Homo sapiens: one gene and its partners. The protein of the gene in region 2 purifies or fractionates together with the protein of the main gene of each other region. This does not show direct contact. Each region holds a gene or a part of one and is shown on either strand. Other genes may lie near its edges. The genes, in order: PTPMT1, ZNG1A, TTF2, NEK4, PC, FDXR and METAP1.

Region 1 (2,681 bases), on a different chromosome or scaffold from region 2:
CAATACTATGCAACAGGTCAGGTGGAAAGTCAGTCTTTCTACCCAATTCTTGCTCTGCCAAATCCTAGAAAAAGGAAGTTGCACATGGGAAGCTGAGATCCTAAGTTCAAGACTGCCTCAGCCTACTCCACGTCCTCTCCGAGCTGGGCTTTTGGTTACAAGAATTTCTAGGAACGAGTATGCAATAGATGTTTTTATGCAACTTGTCACCATGGCTAGAAAAACAAGTAACTCATAATTTAAATAGGAGGGTTAACATGTCCTAAGGATACTCATTGGTTTAGAACTCAACAGAACCAAGAAAATACAGATTTCTAACTTGCTAGTTCAATTCTCACTTGGTGCAAAATACCCTCCTGAGACCCTGCTTCCAGCAGAGCCCTTATGACCAAAATTTTAATATTACTCAACTATATACACACTAGTCCACAGTAACACAAGGCCAGACTTAGCTATTCACATGACTTAGAAAATGCTCTGTGGGAGCCAGACATTTTGTAACTTAGGTTACAAAATGATGATGGACTACAGGGTATTTGTTTCTCCTAAATATTTTTAAAGCATCCCACCTGCCAATTATGACACATTAATAGGCAGAATCCAGTTTGGAGCCTGTTTCCAGAAACTAATATCCAGAACTTTACTCTGGAATACTTGAAGAAACTTGAGTACTATAAAGCTGAAAATGATCAGCACTATTATCTATGATATTGTTTCCTGACATGGTATTAGAACAAGTGTCTAGCCTTTTGCTGGGGTTGAATGGCTTTTGCAACTCCGTTTTTAGAGTGCCCGCTATAGGCCAGCACTTGATGTAATTTCTTATTTAAACTTCATAATACATTTAGTTTGAGAAAACATGTTGCATAAGGCAGAAGTCACTTTTGCTGATCCTCACTGGCAGGCAGCAGAGCCCCAGGTTACCCTGTCACAAGGCTCAGGTGCTTTCCATCATACCAAACCACCTCCCAACAGCCTGAAATCAAGCACACAGCTCCTTCCAACAAGGCCCACCAGTAGACCATGCTATTGAAGTTCTGGAAATCTGCTATAAATGGGACCAGAAAGACTTTTTTTTTTTTTTTTTTTTTTTGAGACAGTTTCACTCTGTTGGCTATGCTGCAGTGCAGTGGCACAAATCACGGCTCACTGCAGCCTCTACCTACTGGGCTCCGGTGATCCATCTCAGCCTCCCAAGTAGCTGGGACTACAGGTGCACACCACCACACTGAGCTAACTTGTTGTATTTTTTGTAGAGACGGTTTTGCCATGTTGCCCAGGCTGGTCTCAAACTCCTGGGCTCAAGCCATCCTCCCATCTCAAGCCTCCCAAAGTGCTGGGATCATAAGTGTGTACCACGATGCCCAGCCCAGAAAGAACTTTGGTACCTGAATCAGGTATGCTGCCACCATAGTGGCACTCCTGGAGCGCCCAGCCTTACAATGCACGTAAACACACTGGCCCAGCGACTGGTACTTGAGAGCAAATTGGACTCCCTTCTGGAGGTTGTCCAAGGTGGGGATCCCAGTCATGTCTACTGTGCTGAGCCGCAGCTGCTCGACTCCTAGTCTCTTCCACTCCTGGAACCAGGTCCACCAGTATGAAAAAGAGAATGAAAAAAAACTATGTGGGTGGGATGATAAGGGGCTCCCAAGAAGCAGCAAAGCAACAAGGAAGTTTCAGGGTTTACTACAATGGGAATACACTGTTGCCTGTTTTCTAAAATAGAAACTTCTTACAGAAATGCTTTTTTTTCCCATTCCAGGTGAGGACAGAAATGTCTTTAAAATGGCTGGCCTACATGGTTGGTTTTTCATCAAGCAACAGCTATGCTGCTGAGTTAGAATTATGTCCAAGATTTAAAGTGTTCCTTTTTTTTTTTTTTTTTTTTTTAAAGACAGAGTCTCGCTCTGTTGCCCAGGCTGTAGTACAGTGGCGTGATCTCAGCTCACCACAACCTCCACCTCCCAGTTTCAAGCGATTCTCCTGCCTCAGCCTCCCGAGTAGCTGGGACTACAGGCACGCGCCACCAAGCCTGGCTAATTTTTGCATTTTTAGTAGAGACGGGGTTTCATCATGTTGGCCAGGCTGGTCTCGAACTCCTGACCTCAGGTCATCCGCCTGCCTCAGCCTCCCAAAGTGCTGGGATTACAGGTGTGAGCCACCACACCAGCAGGTAAAGTGTTCTTAAACTACCCTTTGGGTACTTGAATATTTAGCTGCAAGATATTAGCTATATACATTTTAGCTGCAAAAAATTCAGCTGCAAACGTCTTAACATTTTATTTTGGCCGGGCATGGTGGCTCACGCCTGTAATCCCAACAGTTTGCAAGGCCAAGGCGGGCAGATCACCTAAGGTCAGGAGTTTGAGACCAGCCTGGCTAACATGGGGAAACCCTGTCTCTACTAAAAATACAAAAATTAGCCATGCGTGGTGGTGGATGCCTGTGATCCCAGCTACTAGGGAGGCTGAGGCAGGAGAATTGTTTAACCCTGGAGGGAGAGGTTGCAGTGAGCAGAGATCGCACCATTGTACTCCAGCCTGGGAGACAAGAGCAAAACAACATCTCAAAAATATATATATATTTTATTTTAGAGACACGATCTTGCTATGTCACCCAGGTCAGAGAGCAGTGGTATGCAATCATGGCTCCTTGCAGCCTCAAACTCCTAAGCTCAA
Region 2 (3,360 bases):
AAACTCACTCAAAAACCCTGATGAAGGGGTCCTCATTATTTAATTCATTCTTTCGTGGATTCTCAGCAATAAGAATATATGTAACACATACAATGTACTCACTACACAGGGCCAGGTACTTTTGCCTGAGTCACCTCATTTTATCTTTTGACTTACTCTTCACAACAATCCTGGGGAGTGAAGATAACTATTTCATTTTATAAATTGGGGAAAATAAGGGTCAAAAAAATAAGCTACCCAGAGCCAGGAATAAAACTCAAAACCAAAGTAAATCTGTTCTCTTAAAAAAAAATACAAAAGAAAGGCTTGGCTTATCTTTAACTGAATAAGCATGTGCCAAGAGGAGAAGAGTTCTTAGCGATGAGAATGATAGGATAATGCCCTCTTTGGCTTTAGTAAGGGGGACATCATCATGTATTGAATATTAACTTTAGGATTTATTTTTCTTCTTTATCTTGATAAATCTCTCACTGTCTACCCTAAAGAAACAGAAGCTTAACATTTCCTCTAACAGGTCACCTAATTAAAACCCAAACCTCCCTTTGCCAATATAACCCCAAATTTCAAACTCAGAGATGAAAATACACAAGGGCTAAGCATAACATTATAAAAACATACACCCCACCTTGGAAAATAGAGGCTCAAAAGCCAAGCTCAAAATGAATTTAAAAAGGTAGAAAATAATATACTAAAGCACATCTTTGCATAACTTCCTAGAACTGCATATCTGGCCTAGCAATTTTACTCACCATTACATAATCATACAGGCTTACAGCAGAAAATACAAAAAGACCAAAACTATTTTATAATCCAAACTCAAGAGAATCGCTAAAGTATTAAAGACCAATTTAGGCAGAAACATATGAGACATTTCTTTCTTTCCATAGGTTACTGGGGAACAGGTGGTGTTGGTTAACTTCTTTAGTGGTGATTTGTGAGATTTTGGTACACCCATCACCTGAGCAGTATACACTGCACCCAATTTTTGTCTTTTATTCCTCATCCCCTTCCCACCCTTTCTCCCTGAGTCCCCAAAGTTCATTGTGTCATTCTTATGCCTTTGCATCCTCATAGCTTAGCTCCCACTTATGAGTGAGAACATAGCGATGTTTGGTTTTCCATTCCTGAGTTCTTTCACTTAGAATAATAGTCTCCAATCTTATCCAGGTCACTGCGAATGCCATTAATTCACTCCTTTTTATGGCTGAGGAGTATTCCATTGTATGCATATATATCACAGTTACTTTATCCACGCATTGATTGATGGGCCTTTGGGTTGGTTCCACGTTTTTGCAATTGCCAATTGTGCTGCTATAAACATGCGTGTGCACGTATCTTTTTCGTATAATGACTTCTTTTCCTCTGGGTGGATACCTAGTAGTGGGATTGCTGGACCAAATGGTAGTTCTACTTTTAGTTCTTTAAGGAATCTCCACAGTTTTCCATAGTGGTTGTACTAGTTTACATTCCCACCAGCAGTGTAGAAGTGTTCCGTGTTCACCACATCCATGCCAACATCTACTATTTTTTTGATTTTTTTATTATGGCCATTCTTGCAGAAGTAAGGTGGTATCGCACTGTGGTTTTGATTTGCATTTCCCTGATCATTAGTGATGTTGAGCATTTTTCCATATGTTTATTGGCCATTTGTATATCTTCTTTTAAGAATTGTCTATTCATGTCCTTAGCCCACTTTTTGATGGGACTGCTTTTCTTGCTGATTTGTTGGAGTTCATTGTAGATTCTGGATATTTGTTCTTTTTCAGATGTATATATTATGAAAGATTTTCTCCTTCTCTGTGGGTTGTCTGTTTACTCTGCTGACTGTTCCTTTTGCTGTGCAAAAGTTCTTTAGTTTAATTAAGTCCCAGCTATTTATCTTTGTTTTTATTGCATTTGCTTTTGGGTTCATGAAATCCTTGCCTAAGCCAATGTCTAGAATGATTTTTCCAATGGTATCTTTTAGAATTTTTATAGTTTCAGGTCTTAGATTTAAGTCTTTAATTTATCTTGGGTTGATTTTTGTATACAGTGAGAGAGGAGGATCCAGTTTCATTCTCCTACATGTGGCTAGCCAATTATCCCAGCACCATTTGTTGAAAAGGGTATCCTTTTTCCACTTTATGTTTTTGTTTGCTTTGTTGAAGATCAGTTGGCTGTAAGTATTTATTTCTGGGTTCTCTATTCTGTTCCATTGGTCCATGTGACTATTTTTATAACCGTACCATGCTGTTTTGGTGACTATGGCCTTATAGTATAAGTTTGAAATCAGGTAATGTGATGCCTTCAGATTTGTTCTTTTTGCTTAGTCTTGCTTTGGCTACGCGCATGTGTATGTTAAACCATCCCTGCATCCCTGGTATGAAACCCCTTGATCATGGTGGATTATCTTTTTGATATGTTGTTGGAATCAGTTAGCTAGAATTTTCTTAAGGATTTTAGCATCTATGTTCAAGGATATTGGTCTGTAGTTTTCTTCTTTGGTTATGTCCTTTCCTGGTTTTGGTATTAGGGTGATACTGGCTTCATAGAATGATTTAGGGAGGATTCCTTCTTTCTCTCTCTTGTGGAATAGTGTCTTTAAGACTGGTACCAAGTCTTCTTTGAATATCTGGTGGAATTCTGTTGTGAATCCGTCTAGTCCTGGACATTTTTTTGTTGGTAATTTTTTAATTACCATTTCAATCTCCCTGCTTGTTACTGGTCTGTTCAGGGTAATTCTTCCTGATTTAAGCTAGGAGGGTTGTATCTTTCCAGGAATTTCTCCATCTATTTTAGGTTTTCTAGTTTATGCATGTAAAGGTGTTCATGGTAGCCTTGAATATCTTTTGTATTTCTGTGGTGTCAGTTGTAATATCTCCCGTTTCATTTCTTATTGAGCTTATTTGGATTTTCTCTCTTTTCTTGGCTGATCTTGCTAACGGTCTATCAATTTTATTTATCTTTTCAAAGAACCAGCTTTTTGTTTCATTTATCTTTTGGATTTTTTTTGTTGTTTTGTTTCAATTTCATTTAATTCCGCTCTGATCTCCTTTCTTCTGCTGGGTTTGTTCTTGTTTCTCTAGTTCCTTGAGGTGTGACCGTGGATTGTCTGTGCTCTTTCCGACTTTTTGATGGAGGCGCTCAGGGCCGTGAACCTTCCTCTTAGCACCGCCTCTGCTGTGTCCCAGAGGCTGACAGGTTGGGTCACTCTTGTCGTTCAGTTTGAGGAATTGTTACATTTCCATCTTGATTTCATCTTTGACCCACTGATCATTCAGGAGCAGGTTATTCCATGTATCGGCATGGTTTTGAAGGTTCCTTTTGGAGTTGATTTCCAGTTTTATTCCACTGTGGTCTGACAGAGTGCTTGATATAATT
Region 3 (3,500 bases), on a different chromosome or scaffold from region 2:
GAGGCTGAGACACGAGAATCACCTGAACCTGGGAGGCAGAGGTCGCAGTGAGCTGAGATTGTGCCACTGTACTCCAGCCTGGTTGACAGAGCAAGACTCTGTCTTTTAAAAAAAAAAAAAAAAAAAAAAAGACATGATTAGTCCAAAGCTGTATGTGTTTGCCACACATCCCAATACTCGACCAACATTACCTTTCTTCCTTGTCCTGCTTAACGTAAACACATTACCCAGAAGCCCCACCTTAGCAACCGTTTCCCTACTGAGCACTGACAATGTGCCAAACACCAGACCGAGGCCATCACACACGTTCTCTCTCCAAGTCCTCCAACCCAGGGAAGTTAGGGCCATGTGAGCAATATTCCAGATGAAAAAATGGAGGAAGGAACACGTTTATATGCCCTACCAGGAAATACATCTCATCAGTGCTCTTTCAGCAAGTTTTCATTCTACTTGGACCCAATTCCACTGCTGCTACTTCAATTCAGGCCCATCACCTCTCACTTAAGAGAAAGTTGGTGTGTCTGGAATCAGTTGGACCTGGGTTTAAATCCCAGCAATGCCACTTCATAACCATGGGTCCTCAGATTCCCTTTCTGACCTGTTTCAATGGTAGTTTCTCCATCTTTCTGGTAAACACGGATATTGAAATCTATCACAACAAATTATATGAAGGTAAAAGATAATGAACAGGCTGGGTGCAGTGGCCCACACCTGTAATCCCAGTACTTTGGGAGGCTGAGGTAGGAGGATTGCTTGAGCCCAGGAGATTGAGACCAGGCTGGGTAATACAGTGAGACCGTGTCTCTACAAAAAAAAAAAAAAAAAAAAAAAAAAAAAGGTATATAGTGGGCTTTCAATGGTAGCTATTATTTCAGTGGTCTCTTTGCCCTATTTTCACTTTCTAATCTGTCCTCCATAGTTCTTCTTTTAATGCAAATTGGGTCAAAAATCCTTCAGTGGCTTCCTAACAACTACCACAGTATGTCTGTATGGTAAAGGTCCTCCAGTAGTATGTAAATGGTTTTAAGTATCAGTAGAATATAACTTCATGCAATAAAGGCTTACCAGCCCTACTATACCAGCAGAAAACAATCCAAAAACAAAATTAAAAAAAATTCCATTTACAACAGCACTAAAAAACACAAACACTGAGAAATAAATTTAACAAAAGATGCATAGGAACTCTGTAATGAAAAGTATTAAACAATGCTCAGAGACATTTTTTTTTTGAGACAGAGTCTCGCTCTGTCACCCAAGCTGGAGTGCGGTGGCGCGATCCCGGCTCACTGTAAGCTCTGCCTCCGGGTTCACGCCATTCTCCTGCCTCAGCCTCCTGAGTAGCTGGGACTACAGGCGCCTTCCACCATGCCCGGCTAATTTTTAGTATTTTTAGTAGAGATGGGGTTTCACCTTGTTAGCCATGATGGTCTCGATCTCCTGACCTCGTGATCCGCCCGCCTTGGCCTCCCAAAGTGCTAGGATTGCCGCGCCCAGCTGACATTTTTAAAGTCATAAATAAATGCACTACATTCATGGATTGGAAGCCTCAATATTGACAATTCTCTCCAAATTGATCTATATAGATTCAATGCAATCCCAACAGGGTTTTCTGTGGAAATTTTTAAAAGCTGATTCTACATTTTATATGGAAATGCAAAGATCCTAGAGCAGCCAACGCAATCTTGAAAAAGAATAAAGTCAGAAGACTCACACTATTTTATCTGATTAATTATGTAAAGATAGGCAAATGGATCAATGGAACAGATTAGCAACCCCAGAAATAGACTTACATATATTGGATCAATTGAATTTTTACAAAGACGCCAAGCATTTCAATGGGAAAAGGAAAATCTTCAAAACATGATGCTAAAACAATTGGTAACATATGCAAAAATAAATGAACCTCTACCCTACCTGATATACTACACAAAAGTAATTTAAGATATAGATAATAGACCTATATGAAAAAGCTACTAAAAAAAAAAAGAAGAAGAAAAAAAAAAAACAGGCCAGGTGCAGTAGCTCACACCTGTAATCCTAGCACCTTGGGAGGCCAAGATGTGTAGATTGCCTGAGCTCAGGAGTTCGGGACCAGCCTGGGCAACATGGTGAAACTCCGTTTCTACTAAAATACAAAAAAATTATTGGTGCACACCTGTAGTCCCAGCTACTTGGGACTACTTGGGAGGCTGAGGCATAAGAATTGCTTGAACCCAGGAGATGGTGGTTGCAGTGAGCCAAGATTGTACCACGGCACTCCAGCCTGGAAGACAGAGTGAAACTCTCTCTCTCAAAAACAAACAAACAAACAAACAAAAATAAAACTATAAAGCTTCTAGACAATTCTTGGAAATATTTGTGATATTGGGGTAGGCAAAGATTTCTTGGAGATCAGACAAAAAGCACAAACCATACAAAAATGATGAGCCTCCCGAGTAGCTGAGACTTCAGGAGTGTGCCACCAGGCCCAGCTAATTTTTTTTTGTTTTTTCACTTTTTTTTATTTAGTAGAGATGGGGTTTCACCATGTTGGTTGGCCAGGCTGGTCTCAAACTCCTAATCTCAAGTGATCTGCCCACTTCAGCCTCCCAAAGTGCTGGGATTACAGGCATGAGCCACCATGCCTGGCCTAACTTGTATAGAGAATTTACAAAGAACTCTACCAACTCAGTTTTAAAAAAAGACAAAAATTTTAAAACAGGCAAAGATCTCCAAAGTTATACTTTATGATTCCACTTATGTAACAATTGTGCAATGACAAAATTTTAGAAATGAAAAGCAAATTCCTGATTGCCGGAGTGAAGAGGGCAGAAGGGAGGGAAGGGGGTATGGTTATAGAAAGGGCAACAGAGAGATCCTGTGATGGAACTCTTCAGTACCTTGACTGTAGTGGTAGATACATGACTCGACAGGATAAAATTGTATAGAATATACACACACACATAAATTAGTTCAAGTAAAACTACCTTTACCAATAAAACTGGTGGGTTGTACCAATATTAATATCCTGTTTGTGATATATTTCTAAGCCTTGCAAACGTTACCATTGGGGGAAACTGGATAAAGTCTACAGGGGATAACTCTGTATTATTCCTTACAACTGTATGTGAATCTAAAACTACTTGATAAAAATTTCAATGCAAAAAAAAGGATAAAATATTTAAACAGATAACGTCGAGATTTTCTGATGGCAAATAGGCACACCAAACAAAGTGGTGCATTTATAAATGAAATTCAACTCCACAATAAAAATGAATGAATTACTGATACATATTATATACATTTCACATACTGTTAAGTAAAAGAAGTCAGACACAGAAGAGTACATGCAGTAGGATTTCATTTATATAACGTTCAAGAACAATCAAAACACATCTAAAGAGATAAAAATCAGAACAGTGATTGCTGACAGGGGTGGAGATGGGAGGGGTGAAATTAACTTGAAGGGGACTGATGGCACTTATTGGGGTAATATTTTGACTCGGATCTTGGTTTTATGA
Region 4 (4,003 bases), on a different chromosome or scaffold from region 2:
GTCTATTTTAATATAGGTATCACTTACTTAGAAAAGTTCCAATGCTACAGAAAGAGTGACTGGGTCAACTTCACAAATGAATTTTCCAAAAAATACATTTCTATATGTAAGTATCTGAAGAAAAATTTTCCTAAAATACACCTGCCATCTTCTTGCCATCTGGGAACAAGCTAGGATGCTATTAGTCTACACAGTACCTGCAAAGCCATGGCGATCTGTACAAACCACTCTACCACCTGATTCTCAGGCAGAAGCTGCCCTTTCTGCTCCTTGAGCTTTCGGTACAAATCACCTCCTTCACAGAAGCCCATGACAATGTAGAGCAGACCATCTCCTCCTTCCCATGACTCCTTGTAGGTGACAATGTTGGGATGCTTCAACTGAGACAAGAGCTGGGCTTCCTGTTCAGCAGCTCGCCGCTCTCGGCTAGAGGCATTTCGGAGGTTCAGTTTTTTGATGACATACTAAAAACAAACCATGTATTTTTACAATGTGCAAATAAACGTAAGATTTGTGGCCTCAGAGTTATCTAAGGGCTCTCAAGAATACCCTCAAAACCAACCTTGTGGAGCCTGTCAGATAACCTATTCATTTTGTTTTTCACCAAGCACAAAATCGGGGAAAATATTTGCTATTATTGATACTTCTTATAAGTTAGATTTATAGCAGTGTAGGGCCACAAAAATTACCTTTCCCATCTGCATTTCACAATTTCATTAATGACTAAAAAAAGTGAGTTCAAGATAACATACCATTGGATCAATTATAAAACCTGTGTTAGCAATTCCTTAATATCTGGCCATACACAGTGGCTCACACCTGTAATCCCAGCACTTTGGGAGGGTGAGGCGGGTGGATCACCTGAGGTCAGGAGTTCAAGACCAGCCTGGTCAACATGGTGAAACCTGTCTCTACTAAAAATACAAAAATTAGCCCGGCGTGGTGGTGTGTACCCATAGTCCCAGCAACTCGGGAGGCTGACACAGGAGAATTGCTTGAACCTGGGAGGCAGTAGTTGCAGCAGTGAGCCAACATCGCACCACTGCACTCCAGCCTGGGAGGCAGAGCAAGACTCTGTCTCAAAAAAAATAAAAAATAAAAAAAGAAATTCCTTAATATCTAAGCTCTCCCAAAAAGGTGAATAAAATATAGCTTGACTATACATTTGCAGACAGAATAGTCTGTGGATTACGTTAGATACTCAAAGGGATCCATGGCCCCATAAGTTTAATAGTCACTGATCTTCAGCATACAAAATTATTCACACTTAAAAGAAATCAATAGCCTCTAATACCTAATACATTGCCCTCAATCATTTCAAAGACCATACAATTCATTTCTTCAACACATAGATAAATGTGTTTTGTGAAGTGTAAACTAAAGCTCAAATAACTAGCTATTGCTAGTTCCCTATCATCAGCCCCAAAATCCAATGATTCCCCCAATGCCTACTGAATAAATTTCTTATGCATGAGCTTGTGTTCCACGCAAAGCAACTAGCACCAGAGACAAGGAAGAACAGGCAATTGGGCCCTATATTTAGGGGGAACATCTCTTCTCAGCTTGCCTGGAGCAGTCCTACTGTCCTGGTGTAACTATTAATAATGCCTTTCAGTTTCAAAATTGTCCCAGTTTGTACATTATATTGTCACCCTATTAATAAACCACATTGAATAATTGGTTCATTATCCTGAGAGTAATGGGATAAAGTGTTTTAAACAGAGGAGTGACAACATCAGATTTAAATTTGAGAAAGATCACTGAGGCTGCAGTGAAAGTGATGGATTGGAGAAAAGCAAGTCAAGTGGCGGCGACCAGTTGGGAAACCGTGGCCATAGCTTTGCTAGAGACAACAGGGTGTCCTGGATTGGGGTGGTAGCAGTAGAGATGAGAGGAGGCCTATTGTCTTAGTGATAGATGAATATAATCAGTGTTGGGGTGCGTGGGGAGGCTTAAAAATGACTCCAGGTGTCCGGCTTGGGCAACTGGTGGGTTGGTGTCACTATTCACTGAAACGGAAGACATGAGAGAAGGTTTGGCGGGAAGAAAATGAGTCGAGTTTTAAGTGAATCCAGCAGTCTACAGTAGAGACGTTTGGGGCCCTTCATTCAAGGAATAATGCTTGCTAGGCGCTGTATTAAGTCCTGGGAATGCATGATACCGGCTCTCATGAGAGTATCGGGGTTGGGAGAAAGGTGTGTAGATCACGCATGCCAATTAGTACAACAAAGAAGTAGATAGGCAGAGACTGAAAATTTTTACATAAAACTTAGAATTGTAATTAAAGAAAATGAAAATTAAAAGGAAAAAAATTTAACACAACAAAGAAGTAGAAGTAGTTCTGGGCGCATATTACAGGGAGGCCAGGCCTCGTCTTGGTCTGGGACCATTTCCCTGAGGAAACGCCATCCGAGATGAGCCTCTTGCGACCACCCCCGACCTAATCTACCGGTCGGCGCCCTCGGCGCACTTCTGCCCGCCCCCGCCCCTTGCCGGGCCCCACCCCTGCAGACCTGCTTGCCGTCCCGCCGGTGCTTCACAAGCGTCACCTCTCCATAGCTCCCCTTGCCCACGACCCGCAGGTAGCAGTAGGCGGCCAGGGGCATGTTCCCAGCGCTGGCCCAGAGTCGGGATGCGGCGGCAGCGGCGGGTAGGGCAGCGGGCGGCAACAAGAAGCTCGGTTCATGCCCGAGAGGGGGCAGTGGGGGCGGCTGTTGAGGCAGCCGGGCCCGGGCGGGATTGCTGGGGCCCGGCCCGCGACGACGCCGCTGCCATAGCGATCCGGGCCGGGAGCAGTTCTGCGCATGCTCCTGCGTCCCCAAAGGACGGCCATAGAGCGGACGCCACGAGCGGCCAGAGAGGTTCCGCAGCCCCGGGAGGACCCGCCATAGAGCAGAGGCTCCAGGAGGCCAGAGCGACTCCGCCAGGCTCCGCGCACTTTCTGTGCGTCCGTTCCACCGTCCGGATCCCCGCCACAACAGAGTCAGGGAAAGCTTCCTCTTTTTGTGCACTTGTTTGTCCTAAGGCCGTTACAAGTATTGTTCGTTCATTCTGCAAATATTTGTTGACCGCCTATGTGCCAGGCCAACAAAGTCCCTGCCCTCCTGGAGCTCATGTTCTAATGACTGGGTGACAGACTCTCTACCAGTAACATTTGCTGTATCCGCTTTATCACATGCCGTCTCTGCATCCAGCAATCCATCCTATTTTTTGATACATTCAAAGTAAATTATCAGTACCTTTCATCCCTAAAAACTCGCCTGCTAATTGAGAACTACAAAGACTCCTCAGCATTTAACGACTACCCTAACCACTGCACTAAGAGACTTGACTAAACTCTAACATGGCATCATGCTAAGTTAACAGCCTAAGGGCGGATCTCTAGGTGGGCCTAGGCCCCTTTAAAATGCCTGCCCAAGAAAGCTCAGGGGTGCCAAAAGAATTCACCATTTGTTCCAGCCAAAGCCTCCCTTTCCCAGAGCGCTTCCTTTTTTTCCTTTTTTTTTTTTTTTTTTTTTTTTGAGACAGGGTCTCGCCCTGCCACCCAGCTTGGAGTGCAGTGGTGCAATGGTGCTCACTGCTGCCTAGACTTCCTGGGCTCAAGCCATCCTCCCAACTACAGGCACACACGTCCATGCCTGGCTAATCCTATTTTATTTTTTTTCAGAGACAGGGTGTCACTATGTTCCCCAGACCGGTCTTGAACTCCTCGGCTCAAGCAATTCACCCACGTTGGCCTCCCAAAATGCCGTTATTACAGGTGTGCGCCATCGTGCCTGGCCTCTTTCCTTTTTATGGCCAAATAATATTCCATTATATGTATACACCACAATTTGTTTATCCATTCATGCAGTCATGGACACGGATAGCTTCCATCTTTTGGCTATTGTGAATAATTCGGCTATGAACATGGGTGTACGAATATCTGTTTGAGTCCCTGCTTTCTTTTTAATTCATTTGGGTATACACTCAGAAGTGAAATTGCTGGATCATATGCTAATTC
Region 5 (3,500 bases), on a different chromosome or scaffold from region 2:
TGTCCTGCTCCTTGCTTTCACCCGGTCTCACTTCCAGTGCCCCAGGCACTGTGATAGGTACCTGTCCTCCCACCACCACTCATGGGGGCTCTGGGACCAGTGGCAGGGCAGGACCTCAGATTCACTACTCTTATCCCAAGCCACAGTTCCCTGTGTCCCTCTTCCCTCTGTCCTCTCAGTACCTAATAGTGCCAGGAACAAGTAGGTGCCTAATGAGTGTTTTGGGTGAATTAGTTGAAAAGGGGTCAAACTGGGAACCAGTGAGGAGAGAAGGGTGCAAGATGGGGAATACGGAAAGGAGTTACTTTTGGAGGTGGCAGGGATGGCCAGCACCAAGGTCAGTATGGCAGTAAATCTGGCAATCCACATTTCTCACTGGCACCTTCTGCATGGGCTGGAGGCCTCGTTCAGGTCAACGTTTTCTGTGTTTTTTTTTTTTTGGAGACGGAGTCTTGTTTTGTTGCCCAGGCTGCAGTACAGTGGCACCATCTTGGCTCACTGCAGCCTCTGCCTCCCGGATTCAAGTGATTCTCCTGCCTCAGCCTCCTGAGTAGCTGGGATTACAGGCACCAACCCTTTGCCTGGCTAATTTTTGTATCTTTAGTAGAGATGGGGTTTCACTATGTTGGGCAGGCTGGTCTCGAACTCCTGACTTCAGGTGATCACCTGCCTTGGCCTCCCAAAGTGCTGGGATTACAGGCGTGAGCCACTGCACCCGGCCTCTGGTCAACATTTTCATTGAGGATGAGCATGGCCTTCTCTTTGGCTGCCTCCCAATATCGTCCTGCCCCCATCTGAATGGGCCCCGTTTCTTGTATCCTGAAAGTTCCTGCTTTGGGGCAGGTTTCTCACCCAGAGGCCTCCTTCACAGCAGCAGGGCATTTTGCCTGCTCACTCTGAAACCTCACCTGGGCCTGACTGACCGTGCCTTCCTCTCTTTCTCTTAGCTGCCTTCTAGTCTCACCTGTGGACACTTTGCCAAAGGAGTCGGGCCTGACGGTGGAAGATGGGAAATGGCCAAAAGAATAAACCATTTCCTCTTACTTACCGAATGAAAAGCTTGCTTCATCTTGGCGTTCAAGACTCTCTAATATGATTCCACCTGTTGGGCTCTTTCTTCCATTTGCCTCCGCAGGTACCCTCTTCTGTGTCAGCCCCCATAGTGAGATTAGTCACTGTTACCCCAAACTCACTTCTCACGGTCCCCCCTCTGCTCTTGTTCTTGTTGACTTTGTTTTCTGCAGGGCCTTGCTTCTTATCTTGTCCTGTCAAAATTAAATTATTCTTCGAGACACAGGACTTTATTAAGGCTTGCCAAATCTATTCAGTTGGACTGGGCTCTCTTTTCATAACGATGATGATAAGTAATGATTTATTGTTATTAATAATAAAAGTCAACTACTGTGTGGTGGTGACGGCCTTGCTAAGCCCCTTACATACACATAATGTGATTATCACAACAATCCTATTACGAAGGTCCTATTAGATCCATCTCTTACAAATGACGGACTCTCATAGGTGAAACTCAGAGAGGTGAAATAACGCCCAGAGTAACACAGCCAGGCAGGCTAGGTGGCTCACTGCTGGAGTCCCTCTCACGTGCCATCCCATTTTTGCTTCTTTTAACCAGCCCCTAACAACTTGCTTTTTGGCACTTTGTGGGCAGGGCCTGAGTGTACATACAGTTCCTTGTGCAAGGCATGTGCTCAATAAATATTTTATTGACTTGAGTGCCCCAGACATTGAATTTCAGCCTTGACGTTATCTGTCAAGGCAGCTGGTTTTCTCTGAACAGGGATTTGAGCTTGCTGGCCTGTTTTTCCATTTTGCTGTTCATTGACTAGTGGCTAGGGTAGGTGTGGCTTTTTCGGAAATAAGCAGTCAATAAAACTCCGAAAAGTGATTACACAATACCAACTGTGGGCTCCCATGGGCATAAACACGAGGTGGGCTCTTACTTATGGCAGAGAGGGGTCTCTGCAGGAAAGGATTTGAGGAAATAGCCAGGAAATAGAGTACACATCTCAGGTCACGTAAGACAGCTCCTTATTAGTTTCAAGTTGTGGAGTGAGAGAAGAACCAGACTCCCAGTATTCAGAGGGAGCTCCTGAAGGATTAGAGACAGCTCTGCGGAGATGCAGAGAAAGCGGGCCTGAGGCTGGACGGAGTGGGCAGGAAGAGAAAGCACTTCAGATAAAACGAACTGTTTCTAGAACTTCTTGTTCATGTGTAGTGGGTGGCAGAAAAGGGTTTTACTTAAGCGCTTCCCACCTAGCCTGTCGGTTAACGTCCCAGTGTGTCCTCTGTGCCAGGCATGGTGCCACTGCTGTGCGTGTGCTGCCTCATTGGGTATTCCCTAGTACGCTGTGAGATGGGCATTGTTATTATTCCCATTTTACAGATGAGGAAACAGACTTTGAGTGATTACAGAGCGGCTGTCAGAGTAACAAGAGGTGCAGTCCAGGCAGTGGGACAGCACAGCTGGCGCTTCCAGCTCTGTACCCTCCTGGTGCCCTCAGTGGAAGCAAAGAAACAGTTCTTGGCCGGGTGCGGTGGCTCACACCTGTAATCCCAGCACTTTGGGAGGCCGAGGTGGGTGGATCACCTGAGGTCGGGAGTTCGAGACCAGCCTGACCAACATGGAGAAACCCCCATCTCTACTAAAAATACCAAATTAGCTGGGCGTGGTGGCACATGCCTGTAATCCCAACTACCTCAGGAGGCTGAGGCAGGAGAATCGCTTGAATCCGGGAAGCAGAGGTTGCAGTGAGCCGGGATTGCGCCATTGCACTCCAGCCCGGGTAACAAGACTGAAAAAGTTCTCTGGGTTCTAAAATCGGTGTTCTTGCCACTCCTGTTTTCTCTGGGAAGTTCCTGGAGCAATGAGGGTAATGCTGTTTTTTCTTTTGCTTTAGATAGTGTCTGCCTTCTGGAGAGCTGACCAAACACTAAGGGTAAGTCCTGTGCCTGAATCCAGGCTGGCGGGATGCATGGGGGTCTTCACCAGGAGCAGCTGTGGATGCCAGCAGTTTGGCATGTCAGGTCTTAAGCTCAATCAATAAAAAAAGGCTGCGCTCTGATTTGTGGATAATATCCGTTTAAGCAGTCTTGTCTGTTTCCAGTTGCTCCTGATTTTTACAGGAAAGTGACATCTGGCTCCCTGCTGGCCCCATTTGGCAGCTGGCCAGCCTCAGCAGAAGGCCCTGGTTCTGGAAGGGTATGGTCAGCTTGGGAAGCTGGGCAGGAAGAATCCCTGGGGCTGGGCCGTCTCTGAGAAGACCCCTTGAGTCAGCATGGAGAGCAGGCAGCTGTGGTGTGAGGTGGTTCTGCCAGCTGGTTGTAAAGTCACTTGACACGGGTTTCCAGAGGGTGACGCTCAACCTTTGCCAGTCACGGTAACAACGGGGAAAAAGGGACCTGCCCTTCTTCCCCTGCACATTTTACAGGCATGTGCCACCACACCTGGCTAAGTTTTTTTTTTTCTTTTTTTTTTTTGAGAC
Region 6 (3,500 bases), on a different chromosome or scaffold from region 2:
GAACAGCCCCCTCCCAAAGAGTGAGGCCCAGAGAAGGACCACCCACCCCACCTCCCAGGACCTCAGCATCGGGGCCCAGACCTCGGCTGCTGAGCAGGGCCTGGATGGCTGCGTAGCCAGGCCTGGGGCCAGAGGGGAGCAACCCAGCCTTCAGGTCCTGCAGCAGCATCTGGCCGGTGAGGAAGCTGTCAGTCATGGTTGTGGCTATGACACCTGTAGGTCCTCTCTTCACCCAGCCGCTGCAGTAGAGGCCTGAGAGGGGGTAACAAAAGGGGAAGGGAGGGAGGTGGCTGGATACCACCCTGGCCATCCTGTGCCCACAATCTACACCCACGTGCACGCACACAGACACCCCACGCCTCTTGGCAGACTGTCGGCTGAGCCTGCTGTGGCCGCTGGTCCACTGCCCTGGATTCTTCTCTCCCTGTTTTTACCAGGCCGACCCCCTTACACCTCAGTTTCCCTGTAGATGAGGGGATCCCTAAGCTTAGGAGCTGAGGCTTGCTCCCCTGCAGTTTCAGTAGGCCCTTGGTAAATGTTTACCAAGTGAATTAATCACTAGATAGGTATGTGGGCACTTAGTAAAACTGGAAGCTCCCTGAGGACACAGGCTGCCTTATTAATCTCCAATCCCAGCACTAAGCACAGGGCCTAACCCAGAAAAGACCTCAGTAAACGTTTGTTGAATGACTTAATGACCCGACGTATGTCACATATGTCCTAGCCAGACTGGAACTTCTCTCAGGGCCAAGAGGAGGGCGGCACTGGGTCCTAGAGAGGGCCTGCCCTGCAGAAGCTTCTCAGTACATGTTGCTAGATGAATGAACGCATGGCCCCAGGAGATACCAGCTTCTCGGCCTCTCACCATAATTCAGCACCCAGCCTCCTCACACCCTCTCACCTGGCACATCCATAACCCGGCCCTCCACATTGGGGATGACCCCAAGCTTGGAGTCAAAGGGCACGCTTGGGTCGACAGGGCGGCTCTTATACCCAATGCTGCTGAGCACCAGCCCACAAGGGAGGTCTTCCATGTCTCCCGTGGGCACTGCACGGGTGGCCTCATCGACACCCTGTTGGGGAGAGTGTGGGCAACACCAGGCGGGTGGCAGAGGCCTGGGAAGGGGGTGTCTTTGGGAAACATGAGACTCACCTCCAGTCTAGTGACTGCTAGGCGGACACCTGCTGCCCGCCGCCCATCTGGTGAGGGCAGCACCTGCTGGGGGCTTCGGAAAAAGCGGAGGCCCCAGGCACGGGAGGCCGATGCCTGGCGGGCAGCTTCCGCCGGCCCTGGCTTCTCTGTGGCCGTTCGAAGCAGCAGTTCCGTCAGCCGCTTCCTCGGGCGGGGGACCTCTGTCAGCAACGTAGAATGTCTCCAGGCTGTCCCTGGGCCCCGGCCCTCTCCCTGCATGCCCTTCCCCAATCCCTCTCTGACCTAGGCCACCCTCTCCCTAGTAGTTGGGGGGCCAGGCCAGGGCCCCTCACCCTTGATCTTGTCCTGGAGACCCAAGAAATCCACAGGATCCAAAATGGGCCGGGCTCCCGGTAACTGAATCATCTCCCGAAGCTCCTTGAAGGTGGGAGCAGGGAATGGGGGAGGAGGTCAGGCCCAGAACACAGTCCACCTGAGCCCACCCCAGGGTCCAGCCCAGGCAGGAGAGACCACCACCCGCCTCCTCCCCAAAGGCACAGGGCCCCCGGGGCCCTGACTGCTCCCCTTCTTCCATCCCAGGCAGCAGCTACTCCCAGGGGCTCTGCCCCACCCCAACCCCTTAAGGAGAGGCCCCCTCCACCTGGAACCCTGGCTCCTCCCACTCTGGCCCCAGCACCTTAATGGTGAAGGCCACTTGCAGGGGTCCACGCCGGCCCACTAGCCACACTGTCTTCACTCGACTCTGCCTCAGTACACCCAGGGCTGCCTTCGTGATGTCCGTTCTCTGGCACAAAAGGAGGGCCTTGGAGTCATCAGACACTGACCGAGGAAAGGGGACTCTCCATTTGGTCATGTCCCCACCGTGGGCCTGGAGAAGGCTGGCGGCTCAAAATTGCGCCACTGCTCCCCCCTGGTGGCCAGATGGAGCATTGCTGCCAACTCTGCAAATGGCTCCAACTAATAGCACACCAGGCCCACACTTTCATTCAACAAGTATGTAGTGGGCCTCTACCATGTGCTCACCCCCATGCAAAGAGCTTGGAGGGGCGGGGTGGTCAATGGTGAGGAAAAGAGACAAGGAGCAGGCCCTCTCAGAGCTTGTGATCTGCTGGGGAGAGAAATACTCATCAAATACTCATCAATGTGTGTAAAATTGCTGTGGCGATGATATGCGGTGAAACAGAAGTAGACAGGTCTATGGGAGGAGGCACGATGGGGGAGTGGACCAATTCAGGGAAGTCCTGGAGGAAGGGACAACCGAGCCAAGATCTCAAAGATGAACTTTAACTGTTAACTGGTGGGAGGTGAGTGGGGATGATCCAAGCAGGGGATGTGGCTTACTGAAGAGTAAGAGAAAAACGCCACTTAGCTGGAGTGCAGAAAGTGAAGGGAAAATGGTAGAAGAGGAAGCTCATGGCACTGCCCTTCAGAGAGCCTCTGCCTGGGCACCACGGGGAAACAGAGGCACTGAGCCCAGCTTGGAGAGGTAAGGCCTGAACCCTGCAGACAAGGGCACTCTCTCCTCAGGGTGACCCCACCTCCAACCCCGCCAGCCCTGACCTACCACTCACCTCCAGGTGCTCAGGTGGGGTCAGTAGGATGCGGGCCACGTCCAGAGCCACGTTCCCCTGCCCCAGAATCACGGCTGTGTCACAGCTCAGGTCTGGCTCCAGCTGGAGGGGAAAGGTCTTGATAGGGTCCCCCAGCCTCGCTCCACTCAGTTCATCTCAGTCTGCAGGTGCCTCATGCCTGGTCCCCACTGTGCCCTGGGGCTTCCCCACACCGGGAAAGTCCACAACTCTGGTCCCTCCTCCCCCACCTGGACCCAGCTCTCCCCCGAGGCCCTCCACAGCTGGCCTCCCGCCTCAGTCAGCACAATGTCACAGCTCGCCACTGGATGGCAGCTCCCTCTTCCCCCAGGTCTGGCATCCAAGGGCTGAGGGGCGGGGAGGAAGAGGCAGCGGGCGTGCTCCCCATACTCACCTCCTGGTTCTCAGGAAGCCCGTTGTACCAGCCCACGAAGGCCCGGGCGGAGCACACACCTGGCAGCTCCTCACCAGGAATTTCCAGGGCCCGATGGTCCTCTGCCCCGTAGCTCTGATGAAAGATGGCAGGCCCGAGACCCACAGCCTTCAGCACCAGCACTGATAGGCCGGGCAGCCCCCCAGGCTCCCAGCGGCCTCCTTCCAGCTTCTCAGCAGCTTGCATCCTGGCCTCACCCCTGCTGCCTTCCACCCCGAGCCACCGGCCTCCTTCTGCAGCCCCTGCCTCCCCAAGCCAGGGCCTAGCTGCACTCACCAGCACCACAGCGTGGTAGGCCTCCTGCAGCTCCGGCACCGTCACGTCC
Region 7 (3,500 bases), on a different chromosome or scaffold from region 2:
AAAGAACAGATGAGCCTGGGCAACATAGTGAGATCCTGTCTCTTAAAAAAAAAAAAAAAAAAAGTAGTCAGGTGTAGTGGCACATGCCTGTGATCCCAGCTACTCAGGAGGCTGAGGTGGAAGGATAGCTTGAGCCCAGGAGTTTGGAGTTACAGTAAGCTATGAGCTATGATCTATATGATCTATGATTGTGCCACTGTACTCTAGCCTGAGTGATAGCAAGACCCTGTCTCAAAAAAAAAAAAATAGATGAATGAATTCCTCAAAGAATCACAGCAAGTCATAGGAAGAGAAAGTTCTCCAGGATATCAAACAAAATTAGAATCAAATCACTTTTAAAGCACTGAATAGAAACCTTAAGAATCTTACTTAAATGAATAATATCAATGTATTATATTTTCCTTCAGAATAAATATGTGATTTCACCTAATGAGTACCAACCACTACTACCACTCATCATAGGTATTTCACAAAAAGGCCTACAGCATAACCCTCTGAGCCTTAAACTCTGTCCTATGTTATGATGACTTGTGAAAATAAAATGACAAAATGTTTTTAAATATCATTAAATAAATGAAAAGGATTGTCATCTAAATATAGACTATCCACCAGATTAATTCTGAAATAGGCTTTTAAGAAGAAAACTGTTGACTAAAATTATATACTAACAATAGTTTAATGAAAAGCATGGCTAAACCGGGCACAATGGCTCACGCCTGTAATCCCAGCACTGTGGGAGGCCGAGGCGGGCAGATCACCTTACGTCAGGAGTTAGAGACCAGCCTGGCCAACATGGTGAAACCCTGTATCTACTAAAAATACAAAAAAAGGCCAGGTGTGGTGGCTCACGCCTGTAATCCCAGCATTTTGGGAGGCCAAGGTGGGCAGATCACGAGGTCAGGAGTTCGAGACCAGCCTGGGCAACATGGTGAAACCCCATCTCTACTAAAAATACAAAAATTAGCCAGGTGTGGTGGTGGGCACCTGTAATCCCAGCTACTCAGGAGGCTGAGGCAGAAGAATCGCTTGAAAACAGAAGGTGGAGGTTGCAGTGAGCAGAGATCACGCCACTGCACTCCAGCCTGGGCGACAGAGTGAAACTCTGTCTCAAAAAAAAGTTAAAAAAAAAAAAAAAGCATGGCTGGTCAGTCTAACAATATAACATTTGCTATCTTTATAAATCAGCAAACCACTGACTTCATGTCTAAGTACTGCTTAAACATTTCCTACCCCATGGAGAAAAAATCACTCTTACCCTACATACAAGTCGCATCCCTTCTATATCTTCAGATGAGAGTAATTTAATCTGAGAAGTACCTTTAAGAGCCTGTTCAGATTCAGACATTCCTGGAATGAAAATTCGGTAAGTAAAACCAAAATGAATGCAAAGATGTAGTATTTATTTGCATAATTATAAACCTGTGGCATAAAAACAGTAGTCTCACTGTTTCACACAACAGTAATTCATGATTTGGGATGGTCTAGGTTAGATTTTTAAAAAAAAACATTTTCAACATCAAAGGGAAACTCGCTAAACCAACTGAAGAAAAAATTCTAAAAGATAAATTTTCAGACCTATTAGAAATCAGCCAATACTTATAGAGTACTTATTATATGCCAGGCCGTGTGATAATCAGACTCAGTAAATGATATACATTTGAAAAGTACCACAGAATTTACAAATTACTTTCATAATCATCTCATGAAGCAATTATACATCAACAACTGATGAATTAATTACACTATTTTCTGAAACAGGAACCAAAGTTAAGTGTTTTTCAATCTCCAGTTTGTGACCTTTTATTAGGCTACACTTAACATTTTTTAAAAGTAAATAAATGGGACAGAAAATATTAAAATGGCATAACAAAGTATTATACTCGTATTATACGGAGTAGGAATAAGTGCTGCCATGAAATCTTTATTTATATACACATACAAAGATCACGTTATAAAAGCCATTTCTGAGTCATACTCAAAAAAGTTTTAAAAATATTGCCCTAAAAATCTTCACTAATAAAATTTGTTAGCTTCAAGTTTTACATACATGAAAAGTAATAAAGCCAGGATAGCAATTAACTCAAAATCTAACAAAAATAATGTCAACTAATCTTATTTACAAGTACTAATGGAAAAATTCCAAATAAAAATATTAACAAACAGAATCCAAAAAAACTTAATACATCAGGATGCAAGTGAGATTCATACCAGAAGGCAAGGATAGTTCAATACTGACAAATCTATTCATCCAATTCATCATTCATAAATAAAGTAAAAGTAAATAATCATCTAGAAGGAAAGTTAATTCTGATAACATGGCCAGCTACCACCTTGACATGATAAATATAAATCTCAAACTGAGAACCAACATTACAGAATGCCCACTATCGGCACTATTATTTAACACTGTCCTGGCAATACTAGCAGATGCAATTAAACAAGAGAAAGAAATAAAACATATAAAACTAGAAAAGAAAGGACAAAATTCTTATCAATTTCAGATGTGATTATGTATCTCTAGAACAGAAGAATCACCTGGTAAATGACCATAAATACAAATTCAGCAAGTTGGCATATTGTTTAAGATAAATTTATCAAAATCAATAACTTTCCCACATACAAATAATCAGCTAAAAAATACAGAAGCTATTATGTACAAAAACAACTAAAAAGATGAAGTACCCAGGAATAAATTTAACAATAAAATCCCTACATGAAGAAAATCTGAAAACACCACTGAAAGACATAAAAGGAGTCAAATAAAACTTTAAAAACATACCCTGTTCCTGGACAGGAAGACTCAATATTGTAAAGATGTCAATTCTTCCAAAATTAATCTATAAATTTAATACTATCCCAATAAAAAAATGTCAACAGGATAATTTTGAGAACCAGACAAGCTGATTCTAAATTTCACATGGAAAAACAAACATGCAAGAATAGCCAGGAAAATTCTGAAAAAGAGGAAAGGTAGGGGCAACAAGGCCTACCAAATATTAAACATTATATAGCTATGATAATTAAAAGTTTGGCAGTGGTACATGATTAGACAAATGGGTTAATAAAACAGAATAGAATCCAGAAATAGACCTAAAGACATGTGAGAACATAATACAACAATATAGGTTGCACTTCAAATCAATAAGGAAAGGCTGATTTTTTAAATAACTGGTGATATAATAACCAGGTATCCTTCTGAGAAAAAAAATTAAGTTGCATCCCTATTTAACTCCTTATGCCAAGTAAGTTTCAGATATACAAATGATTTTTATCATACATAAAAAAGACTGAAACCATAAAAATGCTAGAAGAAAACATAGGAATATTTTTTTATAACTTCTGCACCAAAAAGGTCTTTCTAGGTCATAGAGCCATACACACTGTAAAATAAAACACTGATAAATTTTACTATGTTAGGATACTCAAAATCTGTAATAAATGTAATGACAAAACAAACGGTCAATTGGTAAAAAACAGTTTTAAAAACATACATCAAAAGG

The links.
Region 1: the proteins of ZNG1A (region 2) and PTPMT1 purify together in Homo sapiens (affinity purification with mass spectrometry; 3 studies listed by BioGRID and IntAct, with this or other methods). This does not show direct contact.
Region 3: the proteins of ZNG1A (region 2) and TTF2 purify together in Homo sapiens (affinity purification with mass spectrometry; 2 studies listed by BioGRID and IntAct, with this or other methods). This does not show direct contact.
Region 4: the proteins of ZNG1A (region 2) and NEK4 purify together in Homo sapiens (affinity purification with mass spectrometry; 3 studies listed by BioGRID and IntAct, with this or other methods). This does not show direct contact.
Region 5: the proteins of ZNG1A (region 2) and PC purify together in Homo sapiens (affinity purification with mass spectrometry; 3 studies listed by BioGRID and IntAct, with this or other methods). This does not show direct contact.
Region 6: the proteins of ZNG1A (region 2) and FDXR purify together in Homo sapiens (affinity purification with mass spectrometry; 3 studies listed by BioGRID and IntAct, with this or other methods). This does not show direct contact.
Region 7: the proteins of ZNG1A (region 2) and METAP1 purify together in Homo sapiens (affinity purification with mass spectrometry; 4 studies listed by BioGRID and IntAct, with this or other methods). This does not show direct contact.

The regions. Positions count from the first base shown.
Region 1 is NC_000011.10:47,568,599-47,571,279, reverse strand, and holds part of PTPMT1 (phosphatidylglycerophosphatase and protein-tyrosine phosphatase 1), read right to left. Parts: intron 1,581-2,681; coding exon 1,389-1,580; intron 1-1,388. UniProt on the Homo sapiens protein: Lipid phosphatase which dephosphorylates phosphatidylglycerophosphate (PGP) to phosphatidylglycerol (PG).
Region 2 is NC_000009.12:123,697-127,056, forward strand, and holds part of ZNG1A (zinc-regulated GTPase metalloprotein activator 1A), read right to left. Parts: intron 1-3,360. UniProt on the Homo sapiens protein: Zinc chaperone that directly transfers zinc cofactor to target metalloproteins, thereby activating them.
Region 3 is NC_000001.11:117,063,326-117,066,825, reverse strand, and holds part of TTF2 (transcription termination factor 2), read right to left. Parts: intron 1-3,500. UniProt on the Homo sapiens protein: DsDNA-dependent ATPase which acts as a transcription termination factor by coupling ATP hydrolysis with removal of RNA polymerase II from the DNA template. May contribute to mitotic transcription repression. May also be involved in pre-mRNA splicing.
Region 4 is NC_000003.12:52,768,141-52,772,143, forward strand, and holds the start of NEK4 (serine/threonine-protein kinase Nek4), read right to left. Parts: upstream 2,801-4,003; 5' UTR 2,607-2,800; coding exon 2,514-2,606; intron 465-2,513; coding exon 198-464; intron 1-197. UniProt on the Homo sapiens protein: Protein kinase that seems to act exclusively upon threonine residues. Required for normal entry into proliferative arrest after a limited number of cell divisions, also called replicative senescence.
Region 5 is NC_000011.10:66,951,884-66,955,383, reverse strand, and holds part of PC (pyruvate carboxylase, mitochondrial precursor), read left to right. Parts: intron 1-947; 5' UTR 948-1,135; intron 1,136-2,915; 5' UTR 2,916-2,954; intron 2,955-3,500. UniProt on the Homo sapiens protein: Pyruvate carboxylase catalyzes a 2-step reaction, involving the ATP-dependent carboxylation of the covalently attached biotin in the first step and the transfer of the carboxyl group to pyruvate in the second.
Region 6 is NC_000017.11:74,862,995-74,866,494, forward strand, and holds part of FDXR (NADPH:adrenodoxin oxidoreductase, mitochondrial isoform 1 precursor), read right to left. Parts: coding exon 3,452-3,500; intron 3,251-3,451; coding exon 3,137-3,250; intron 2,827-3,136; coding exon 2,725-2,826; intron 1,956-2,724; coding exon of another isoform or gene 1,938-1,955; coding exon 1,830-1,937; intron 1,571-1,829; coding exon 1,486-1,570; intron 1,354-1,485; coding exon 1,154-1,353; intron 1,074-1,153; coding exon 902-1,073; intron 253-901; coding exon 82-252; intron 1-81. UniProt on the Homo sapiens protein: Serves as the first electron transfer protein in all the mitochondrial P450 systems including cholesterol side chain cleavage in all steroidogenic tissues, steroid 11-beta hydroxylation in the adrenal cortex, 25-OH-vitamin D3-24 hydroxylation in the kidney, and sterol C-27 hydroxylation in the liver.
Region 7 is NC_000004.12:99,037,221-99,040,720, reverse strand, and holds part of METAP1 (methionine aminopeptidase 1), read right to left. Parts: exon of another isoform or gene 2,780-3,500; intron 1,348-2,779; coding exon 1,256-1,347; intron 1-1,255. UniProt on the Homo sapiens protein: Cotranslationally removes the N-terminal methionine from nascent proteins. The N-terminal methionine is often cleaved when the second residue in the primary sequence is small and uncharged (Met-Ala-, Cys, Gly, Pro, Ser, Thr, or Val).